Linked DNA regions of Homo sapiens: region 2 is linked to region 1. Evidence: fine-mapped expression QTL. A gene starts in region 1. The other region holds a variant in brackets. All regions are shown on one strand. Distances are from middle to middle. Region 1 holds the start of GDPD3 (glycerophosphodiester phosphodiesterase domain containing 3). Region 2 overlaps TAOK2 (TAO kinase 2).

Region 1 (5,364 bases):
AGACAGCACGCTTCCAGCCCGGAGTGCTGGAGGCCCCCTAGCCCAGACAGACATCTCTGCACCCTGGGGCCTGGTGAGTGTCTCCATGGCCCACACATGGACACCCTGATACTAAATATCTATATCTGTATATCTATATCTATATCTATCTGTACATGCCTCCATACAGCAGCAAGCTTACCCCACACCCATGGTCAATGTGTCTGGTGACAACAGAAGTGCCCAGGGGGCTGGGTGTGGTGGCTCATGCCTGGAATCCCAGCACTTTGGGAGACTGAGACTGAGAGGAGTGGATCACCTGAGGGTCAGGAGTTTGAGACCAGCCTGGCCTGCATGGTGAAATCCCATCTATACTAAAAATACAAAAATTAGCCGGGCACAGTGGGTCACTCTGGTAATCCCAGCACTTTGGGAGGCTGAGGCAAGTGGATCACCTGAGGTCAGGAGTCCGAGACCAGCCTGCCTGGCCAACGTGGTGAAACCCTGTCTCTACTAAAAATACAAAAATTAGCCGGGCACGTAGGCATGCGCTTCTAGTCCCAGCTACTCAGGAGGCTGTGGTGGGAGGACTGCTTGAACCTGGGAGGCGGAGGTTGCACCACTGTACTCCAGCCTGGGCAACAGTGAGACTCTCTCAAAAAAAAAAAAAAAAGGGCTGGGCACAGTGGCTCATGCCTGTAATCCCAGCACTTTGGGAGGCCGAGGTGGGTGGATCACAAGGTCAAGAGTTGAGACCAGCCTGGCCAACATGGTGAAACCCGGTCTCTACTGTAAAGAATACAAAAATGAGCTGGGTGTGGTGGCACATGCCTATAATCCCAGCTACTCAGGAGGCTGAGGCAGGAGAATTGCTTGAACCCAGGAGGCAGAGGTTGCAGTGAGCCGAGATCGCACCACTGCACTCCAGCCTGGACTACAGAGCAAGACTCCATCTCAAAAAAAAAAAAAAAAATGCCCAAGGCTGCCCAGACTGGTGGCCCACCGAGTCCTCCAGCCCCAAATGTCTCTGCCTGTCAACACCTTGCATCCTCCAGCCCCACAAGCCATTCTAATCTCCTTCTAGGAACAGAACTGGCAAAGAGGCAAGAGGTCACTGAGGGCCTCTGTCACCCAGGTGAGGACCTGAGCCAAGCTTCAGCTCTGGGTGTGGCAGAAGCAGGTGGGGCCATGATTGCTTTGGGAGGGGCCCAGCAGCGCCCAGCCTGACCCAGATTGCCAGGCCTCCTCACACCTGCTGCCAGATCAGCAGTTCACATAGCTGTGGGGACCCCACTGGCCTGCCCCCACCCACGCTGCCTCCTTGCCTCCTCCGGTCTCTTCCTGTCTTCAGCCAGGTGTGGCCTGATAGAAAGAAGGCATGCGCACCTGGGCTCAAACTCCAGCTGTGCCACTTAGTAAGTGCTGTGTGATATTGGGCAAGGCACCTCACCTCTCGGCGCCTCAGTTTCCGGAGTCAATCTATTTATCTTTTTTTTTGGTTTTGTTTTTTTGAGACAGTGTCTCGCTCTGTCACCCAGGCTGGAATGCAGTGGTGCAATCATAGCTCACTGCAGCCTCAAAACTCCTGGGTGCAAGGGATCCTCCCAGCTAGCTGGACGAGCCATTGCAACCGGCTAATTTTTTTTTTTTTTTTTTGTGGAGCTGGGGTCTTGCTATGTTGCCCAGGCCAGTCTCAAACTCCTGGGCTCAAGCGATCCACCACCTCAGCTTCTCAAAGTGCTGGGATTATAGGCGTGAGCCACTGTGCCCGGCCGAGACAGTTCTAATAATGAAAGCATAAAGCCCTAAGCATTGTTCTAAGAGGTTTACATGTATTAATTCCTTTAATCTTACAGCAGTACCTCAAGCTAGGTACTATTATTATCTCCATTTACAGATAAGGAAACTGAGACCCAGCCTATCCAGCTGTGAGGGTGAAATGAGAGATGTTGAGGTCAGGGCTCCAGTGGGTCTGCCCGGGGGGTGCTAACGACTCCTCTTCTGCCTGCTTCTCTCTTTAGGACCTGCCTCCTGCCTGCCCCTCTCCCGCCAGACTGTTAGAAAATGGACACTGTGCCCAGCCCGGACCTTGGCAGCCCAGGCCGGGGTGGAGCATGGGCCTGGCCACCTCTCTCCTTTGCTGAGGCCTCCAGCTTCAGGCAGGCCAAGGCCTTCTCCTCCCCACCCGCCCTCCCCACGGGGCCTCGGGACCTCAGGTGGCCCCAGTTCAATCTCCCGCTGCTGCTGCTGCGCCCTTACCTTCCCCAGCGTCCCAGTCTCTGGCAGTTCTGGAATGGAAGGGTTCTGGCTGCCCCAACCTGCTGAAGGGCAGAGGTGGAGGGTGGGGGGCGCTGAGTAGGGACTCAGGGCCATGCCTGCCCCCCTCATCTCATTCAAACCCCACCCTAGTTTCCCTGAAGGAACATTCCTTAGTCTCAAGGGCTAGCATCCCTGAGGAGCCAGGCCGGGCCGAATCCCCTCCCTGTCAAAGCTGTCACTTCGCGTGCCCTCGCTGCTTCTGTGTGTGGTGAGCAGAAGTGGAGCTGGGGGGCGTGGAGAGCCCGGCGCCCCTGCCACCTCCCTGACCCGTCTAATATATAAATATAGAGATGTGTCTATGGCTGACCCTGGCTCTGTCTGTGTTCGCGACGCCCCCGCCCTGCCCCGTGCGGCTCTGAGGACAGACTTGACTTGGGCTTTCAGGGGCCTGGTGCCCTTCACTCCCAGCTGCCCAGGGCTGGGGACGGGGCTCTGGAGAGCTCCAGACTCCTAGAAAGAAGGGGGTCAGTTTTCCCCTTAGTCACTGTCCTGTCCTCTCGCTAATGGCTTCCTGTCTAACTGGCTGGGGGTGATTCGGGGTGACTCAGGAGCACCCTACACACCCCTGGATCCTCTGAAATGGCAAGGGGTAGGCATGTTGGATGCGCTGGCTACAAGTACCAGTGAGAGGGAGAGGTCCTGACAGTCCTGGGTGGTTTTTACTCCCCTCATGTAGCCCAGGACGGGGCTGCTGGGGGCTGGGAAGGGCCTGGGGATATGAGAGCCAGGGCTACTTGCCTCACCTCCTGACACTACCCCAGCTTCAGCCGAACCCTGCAGCCTGGCTCCAAGCCAGCCCAGCGGCAGGCTCAGCAGGTCCCAGGGGCGTGGCAGTGGCCAGTAGTAGAGCCGGCCCACACTGGCTAGGCAGGCAGCACAGTCCCGCGGACGGCTGAGCGTGTGGCTGCAGGAGCTTCTGTGGGAGTACGGTCATGAGCCTTTTGCTGTACTATGCCCTCCCTGCCCTGGGCAGCTATGCCATGCTCTCCATCTTCTTCCTGCGCCGGCCTCATCTGCTGCACACGCCCAGGGCTCCCACCTTCCGCATCCGCCTGGGGGCCCACCGAGGAGGTGAGCCGGGTAGGGGTGAGAACAGGTGCCAAAGTGGACAGCACAGAGGGGTAGGTCCAAGGGGGCATGCTAGAAACGGGGCAGGGACCAAGAGAGAAGGAGAGCGAAGTGGCAGGGCAGGGTGTGGACGAGGAAGAAGATGCTGGCGCAGCCTGGGCTGGCTGGGGAGGTGAGGCCAGAGGGAGGATGGAGCCCAGAGAGGGAATGTGGGTGATGAGGTTGGGCCAGGCCCCTAGACCCCAAGCCCCAGAGGCCCACTCCAGTGCCCCCCACAGGATCTGGAGAGCTGCTGGAGAACACCATGGAGGCCATGGAGAAGTGAGTGTATCTGCCCCTGCCCAGGCTGCCATGTGAGGGTGTGCAGGTCGTGGACTGCATCACAGCAAGGGACGCCATTCACTTCCTAGCTGGGTGACTGGCGCCCCCTGGAGGTGGCCTGCACATCCCGCCACGAACTCCGCTCTCACATTCCCGGCCACCTCCCAGCCACCATGCCCCTCATCCCAGTCCCCTGCCCCTGCCCCCCGCTGACCTTCACCCCCACAGCTCCATGGCCCAGCGCTCGGACCTCCTGGAGCTCGACTGTCAGCTGACACGGGACAGAGTGGTGGTGGTGTCACATGATGAGAACCTGTGCCGCCAGTCGGGCCTAAACAGGGATGTGGGCAGCCTGGACTTCGAGGTGGGCCCTGCCCTGACACCCCAACCCCCACCCTGAGAGTCACCATGCCCAATGCGGGCCTCTAGTGACATCCTTCCTGTCCTCCCCAGGACCTGCCCCTCTACAAGGAGAAGCTGGAGGTTTACTTCTCTCCAGGTGAGAGCAAGGGCTTCGAGCCCTGCCTGGGCCATGCCTGCCTTCCTTGGACCTCCGCCTTGGCTTCCCTCTGACCCCTTTTCCCACACCACCCCCAGGCCACTTTGCTCACGGGTCAGACCGGCGCATGGTTCGTCTGGAGGACCTGTTCCAGAGGTTTCCAAGGACACCCATGAGCGTAGAGATCAAAGGGAAGAACGAAGAGCTCATCCGTGAGGTGGTGCTGCAGGCAGGGCTAGGGCGGCCACCGGGGGCGTGAGAGAGGCCTGGCTCTCCCTTCACCTCCTTCTCCTCCTCCCAGATAGCAGGCTTGGTGAGACGCTATGACCGTAATGAAATCACCATCTGGGCCTCGGAGAAGAGCTCGGTCATGAAGAAATGCAAGGCTGCCGTGAGTCCCCCCACCCCTCCCCCGTCCTCTTCCTCCTCCAGGGGCCCCTCCTCCCCAGAGCTGGAGCCCACCCAGCATGGGGACCCGAGCTAGAGGGGTCTGGGAGAGTTCCCAGTGGCGTGGCGGTGGCAATGAAAAGGGTGTGAACTCAGGCCTCGAACACAGAGCCAAGATGTGACTTTTGTTTTTTTTCTTTTTTGAAACACAGTCTCTCTCTGTCGCCCAGGCTGGAGTGCGGTGGTGCGACCTCGGCTCACTGCAACCTCTGCCTCCTGGGTTCAAGCGATTCTCATGCTTCAGCCTCCCGAGTAGCTGGGATTACAGGTGCACGCCACCACGCCCAGCTAATTTTTGTATTTTTAGTAGAGATGGGGTTTTACCATGTTAGCCAGGCTGGTCTTGAACTCCTGATCTCAGGTGATCCACCTGCCTCAGCCTCCCAAACTGCTGAGGTTACAGGCGTGAGCCACCACACCCAGCCCCAAGATGTGACTTGGATCCTGCAGGTAGTAGGGCCTCTGGAATGCCCACCACGGCTCCCCTGCAGCTCATGCCTCCTCTCTGCTTCCCCAGAGCAGACAGATTCTCATGCCTCTCCTTGCCTCCCCAGAACCCCGAGATGCCCCTGTCCTTCACAATAAGCCGAGGATTCTGGGTGCTGCTTTCCTACTACCTGGGGCTGCTGCCCTTCATCCCAATCCCTGAGAAGTTCTTCTTCTGCTTCCTGCCCAACATCATCAACAGGTACCAGTGGGGGGCGGACCTCAGAAAAACTCCCCACTGCTTA
Region 2 (5,364 bases), 130 kb after region 1:
GAGAGGGGTGGGGAAGGCATGAGTCAGGCATCCATACCCCATGGCCTAACGCCTGGGCCCAGATTCGGAATCTCAGTCCTCACCAGTGTCCTGACTGGAGCACGGGGGATTCGTTCTGTGCAATGTGGTATAAGGCACTCATCGCATTCATGTTAAAGAGCGGTGGTTTCCGTTCAGCTACAGAAAAAGGTGAAAGGGAAGAAGGTGAGAGGTGGCAGGGGGTAGAGGACAATGGAATGGAACTGAGACGACTTGGGTTCAAACCCCAATTCCTTGACTTCCTTGCCACATGACCTTGAGAAGTTCCCATCATCCTGTTGCGTCTCAGTTAATTCCTTCCTCTGTAAAATACAACACCCATCCTCTCCACTGCACACGGGTGGAATAGGGGTCAAAGAAAATAACATCCACAAAAGCAGTAACGAAGGCAGAAGGACAGCCATTCAGTTATCACCCCAACTAATATTTCTTAGGTGCCAAAGGGAGCAGATAACTTGATAATTGCTATGGGGAAGATAAAAACAAGAATTAGGCCCCACCCTCAAGGAACCTCCAGTCTAAAAGATTAAATAGGACTGAAAAAATAACATCAAAGTATTAACTGGTATAAGAGGGAAACAGGGAAGTGGCTGGGAAGTTGAGAGTATGCAGTGAGCCTTCAAGCTAGCATATCTTCAGGGAATTCAGAGAAGGGCTTTGTAAAAAGCCCTGAGATTAGAAAGGTAAGTGCAAGCTAAGAGTCGCTAAGAGTCCCTTGTAGCCCAGACAAATGTCATGTTGTTTTGGCCTAAACGGTGATTTTTAAAATTAACTGCCAAAAGTAATAATCAAATAATAATACAAGTTTCCAGTTTCTCCTTAAGAATTAAATCTGGTGAAATGGAGTCTACATTACTGCATAACAATGGTCTGGAGATAAGCATTAGCTGCCCTCTTTCTATGGAAACAGCAATCTCCAGTTTGCCACATCCTTCTCCACACTGCTTCCCTGATATTGACTTAGTATGAGTTGACATTTATAATCAGACTGATATATATTTTTTTCAATAGTAGAGTAATATTTCTCTGTATCCACATCTCTTCCAAAAACTAGAAATAAAATGGACAGATCTAGCTTTTTCTTATACTTGGGTCCGTTTCTTACATTTTTCATCAACTGTCTGGGCCTGGCATCTAATGGTAAATGGAGACTGTGAAGATGGAGGAGAAGGGCTCGTCCAAATCTCTGACCTCGGGCAGAGGACCCAATACGAACCAAGGCAAGGAAGTGGAAGAGTTCATGACACACTCAGAGGGTGGAGCCCATGAAGGAAAGGGCCAGCATTTACGAAGCAAAGCCTCTAGGTTGGTGGGAGGAAGGATGGGGATGGCTTCAGTCTTGAAGGCAACAGGGGGCCACTCATGGCTCCAAACAGGGAGTGAAATGACAGCACTGAGCTTAGGCAGACCTCTCTGGCATCAGTACTTAAGACAGACTGGAAGGGAGAAGAGACTGGAGAGATCACTGCAGGAGGCTGTTGATAAGAGAAACTAACAGCAACTCTTAGGCAACTGTTTTGTGCCTGGCATTGTGTTGGAAGCCTTATAAAGGTTACCTACCTCATTAAAGAATTGTTTCAATAGTGCTGGCTGACAGAGATGAGAACCTTGGCATGGCTTCAAGGCCTTAGGAACTCACTTGGACCTAACTCTCTGGCCTTATCCTTCAATATTCTCTGCATTACATGCTAGGTTCCAAATAACTGAAGCTAGTCCCAGTTCCCCAGGCCTGCACTTACCTCTAGGCCTCTCACATGCTGTTCTCTCTGCCTGGAAAGCTCTTCCCTACATTCTGCAAACAGCTATTATTTATCTTGCAGGTTGGCTTCAATATTCTCCTACAAGGAGGCCTTCTTCAGCCCCTAAACTAGGTCAAGTCCCCTGTTTTACATTTGAACCGCTCCTGTAACTTCTCCACACAGCGTTCATCACATTGAAAGAAAACATGCCTGCCTGGTTTCCCTAAATCAAATGTAAGTTCCATGAGGGCAGGATTTTCATTCACTGCTATCCCTCCAGAATCACAGTCCATGGCACAGCACATGGTGGGCACTAAGAAAAGATTCAGAACCAGGGTAGTGGACAGGAAGAGATGAATGCTACAAAATCTCTAGGCCTAAGAGCTGGCAGAATTTGCCAGCTGCCTGTATTGGGCTCCAGGGTAGAGTCACAACGGACAGGAACTTGGAGGCCTGGGATCCCATCCCTAGGAGAAGGGGGTAGTCCGGAGTCTGGGAACTAACAGGAAAGAATGGAAAAGATGATGAGGGAACAGGGAGGATGTTCTTACCCAGCTCGATGCAGGTTATCCCCAAGGACCAGACGTCCACTTTGCCATCGTACTGCCCCTCATCCATGGCCAGGATCACCTCGGGTGCCATCCTAGGAGAATGGTCAGGAGAGAGAGGCAAATCACCCGCCGAGACCCTGTCACTCCTACTCCCAACATCCCTGGGAGGTCTCTCCACTCACCACCACTCACTCACTCACCAGTATGGGGTGCCCACGAAGGAGTTGGCAGGTGCCATGATGGACGCAGAACCAAAGTCCCCTAGCTTCACTAACCCTGGCTCTGACAGCAGGATGTTTCCAGCCTTCACATCCCTGCCAGAGGCAAAGTACAGGGATGAGACATGTGTCTCAAGAAAGCTAGGCAGGGGCAGCCCAGCTAAGTGACAGGTGGTGCAGATAGCACTCCCCTCCCAGGCACTGCCGGTGCTGCTTGTACCTATGGATCATGTTGTGGGAGTGCAGATATGCCAGGCCCTGAAGCGCCCCGTGGGTCACAGCTGCGATCTCTACCTCCTGAAGGGGTTTCTTGTGCACTGGAGAGTGAGGAAGAACATCAACCCGAGGGAGCGCAAGGGTGGGACTGGAATAAACTCCCCTTAACCCTTCCCTATGGCTCCCCTGCTCTTCTCCCTTCTCCACTTATTGGCCTATCAGTCACTTACCTTCTAGAAGGTCAGAAGCTGAGCCCAGGCAATACTCCATTACCAGCTAAGGAAGAGACAAGGGTCAGAGATCAGAGTCTCCTGGGCAGGGACTCAAAACAGAGCTTCCTTGACTGTCCTGTACTCAAGCTATGTCCC[C/T]GGGGTGATGACAGGGAGGAAGCGCAACTGGAGACAATGAGGGGGTGGTGGGAGAGTTTCTAGAGTCTGGGCCCAAGACATTCACCACTGCCCATCTGAATCCCTTCAAACTCCCATTCAATCTCCACCTTCTCCAGCCCACAGTGACCTGTCCCACCTGCTAACAGCCTGTGTCACTGAGCCAGGCTTTTGCTCAGTGGGTATGTCTGAGGACTAAAGCGGTCAAAAGAGACTTCCTCCTTCCCAAGATCCCACAACAGCACCACGAACAGGGACCACCTAAGAGACTGGACTACGATAAGGACGGGCATGAATAGGAGTAAAGATCAGGCCAGAATCTGGCACCAGCTCACCCAAGCCGTGTGCTCCCTCAGGTAACAGCCCCGGTACTGAATGGTGTTGGGATGCCGGAGCTTCTGTAAGAACCGCACCTCCTTGATGATGTCTTGCCATTTCTAGGGGGTCAGGGTAGGCAGAGGTTACCCAGCTTGCATCTTGAGACAGGAGTCCCCTGTCCCCAACCTGGCTGTATTGCACCTGGCCCACCTCATTGGACTGCTTCCCACTGTAGGACATCTTCTTGATGGCCACCACCTCACTATTCCGGACATCCCGGGCCTAGAGGACCAGACCAGAAGGTGTTGAAGGCCCCATTGAGAGCCGGGCATGGGAAGACTTGCTGGCCCAGCAAGAGAAGGCAGGAAAGACCAGTGTGATGGAGTAGTGTGCAAGGGCTGTTGGGAAGTCCACAGGGATAGGAAGAGTCCCCATCCCTATTACACCCTCCCAAGACCCAACTCACAAAGTATACGGCTCCAAAGCTGCCATGGCCAATTTCCCGGAGGTCAGAGAAGAGCTTTTCTGGGTCATCCTTGAAGAAGAGCTCAGCCACATCTGGGTCCTTCAGGCTCCCGGCCCGGCCCCCAGCTGGCATGGTGGCCCCTGGGGGCCCTGAGAGTGGGGCCTGGCCTGAGGAATGGAAATGGGACCCTTAGAGATCAAGGATTGAGCCTTCAGGGAGAGGAAGGGACCCATCAAGTTTCTGCCATCTCCTCCCCTCATTCCCTGATGAGGAGGAGGCACTGCTGAGGAAGGGGAGGGGGAGATTAGGAACAACATCAAAGCTCCAAAAAATGAAGTTGCCCTGGCAACCAGATCACGCGGGCTGGGTCCCTGGAGTCCCTAAAACTGCTAGGAAGATTCTGGGAAGCTAAGTATCCTCACCACCCCCTTCAGTGCTCAACAAGTTCTCATTTCCCTATAGCCCCTGTATCTCCCCTCAAGGATAAAACATTCTGCTTCCCAGCCAGCACTCCAGAGCCCCAAGTGTCCTGTCCCATAAGTCCTATACCCCAACTGTTTCCAGGCACCTTTCTGTTCCCCTTGGCGCTGAGGCCCCCTCCTCCCTCAACCTCTCACACCCTGGAAGAGAACAGGAAATGGCCAGGCCGGAGGCGGTGGAAATCCGTCCATTGTTAGAAGTGGGTACTGGCCCAGAGGAGCCCGCAAAGTCACTCTCAAAAAAGTCAGGGGGAGATCTAGAATGGGAAGAATAGGGATATAAATGGCATCTGGCTATGAGGGCCTCTCTGTGCTCTGGGCCACCTTACTTGTCCTGTCCAACTGCATAAGCATCACACACAGGTACAGGACATTTGCAGGGTACAAATAACATTTACTGAGTACCTTACGTGCATTATCTCTATTCAGTCCTCACTACAACCTTATGAAGCAAGTACTATGATTTCCCCTATCTTACAGATAAAGAAACAGGCTCAGCAAGGTTAAGTGCCTTGTCCAAAGCTGGTCCTCCATCACTATGATTTCAGAGCAGCCCTTCGAAACAGGCAGGGCAGAATCATGATCACCATTTCCTAGGTGAGGTCACTGAGGCACAGAGAAGAAAAAGGACTTCTCCAAGGTCAGAGAACAGGACCTTCGGCTCCCCGGTTAGGCCTGTATCCATTACTCTCTCAGCTGTCACCCCAAGCTCAGCTCCCCTCTTGCAGGAAGCCTGTCCTGACCACTCCAGCCATTGGGAAGAGCACCTAGGGCACCCAACCAAACACCCGGAGAAAGTTCCTGCAGGATACCAGAACCAAAACCCTCAAGGAGATTCCAAGACAGGCTCCAGCCTAAGCACTTGTCAGAATTTAGGCACAAAGGAGCCTTCAGCAGAGCTGGACTCCTGGGGCAGAGTTCTAGCTACTCAAAAGCACCTAACAATTTTAGC

Evidence for each region. PIP is the estimated chance that this variant, and not a neighbour inherited with it, causes the effect.
Region 2: its variant is the best candidate, but not a certain one, in a credible set for the expression of GDPD3 in whole blood (TOPMed, PIP 0.77).

What each region holds. Positions count from the first base shown.
Region 1 is chr16:30,111,345-30,116,708 of GRCh38, reverse strand. GDPD3 (glycerophosphodiester phosphodiesterase domain containing 3) reads left to right here and starts at 3,172. Exons shown (of 10, transcript NM_024307.3): 1 at 3,172-3,369; 2 at 3,645-3,687; 3 at 3,916-4,051; 4 at 4,141-4,186; 5 at 4,285-4,403; 6 at 4,488-4,577; 7 at 5,188-5,321. The coding sequence starts at 3,231. MAPK3 (mitogen-activated protein kinase 3) reads left to right here. Exons shown (of 9, transcript NM_002746.3): 8 at 1-73; 9 at 2,001-2,604. The coding sequence ends at 41. RefSeq lists a silencer at 2,907-3,201.
Region 2 is chr16:29,976,474-29,981,837 of GRCh38, reverse strand. It overlaps TAOK2 (TAO kinase 2), which reads right to left. Exons shown (of 16, transcript NM_016151.4): 2 at 3,934-4,100; 3 at 3,678-3,749; 4 at 3,485-3,586; 5 at 2,994-3,039; 6 at 2,768-2,864; 7 at 2,530-2,643; 8 at 2,330-2,421; 9 at 84-177. The coding sequence starts at 4,065. Among named protein-coding and RNA genes, the nearest start is that of TAOK2, 5.3 kb to the right of the region's middle. RefSeq lists an enhancer at 5,077-5,364. The variant C/T (reference allele first, on the strand shown) is at 3,132.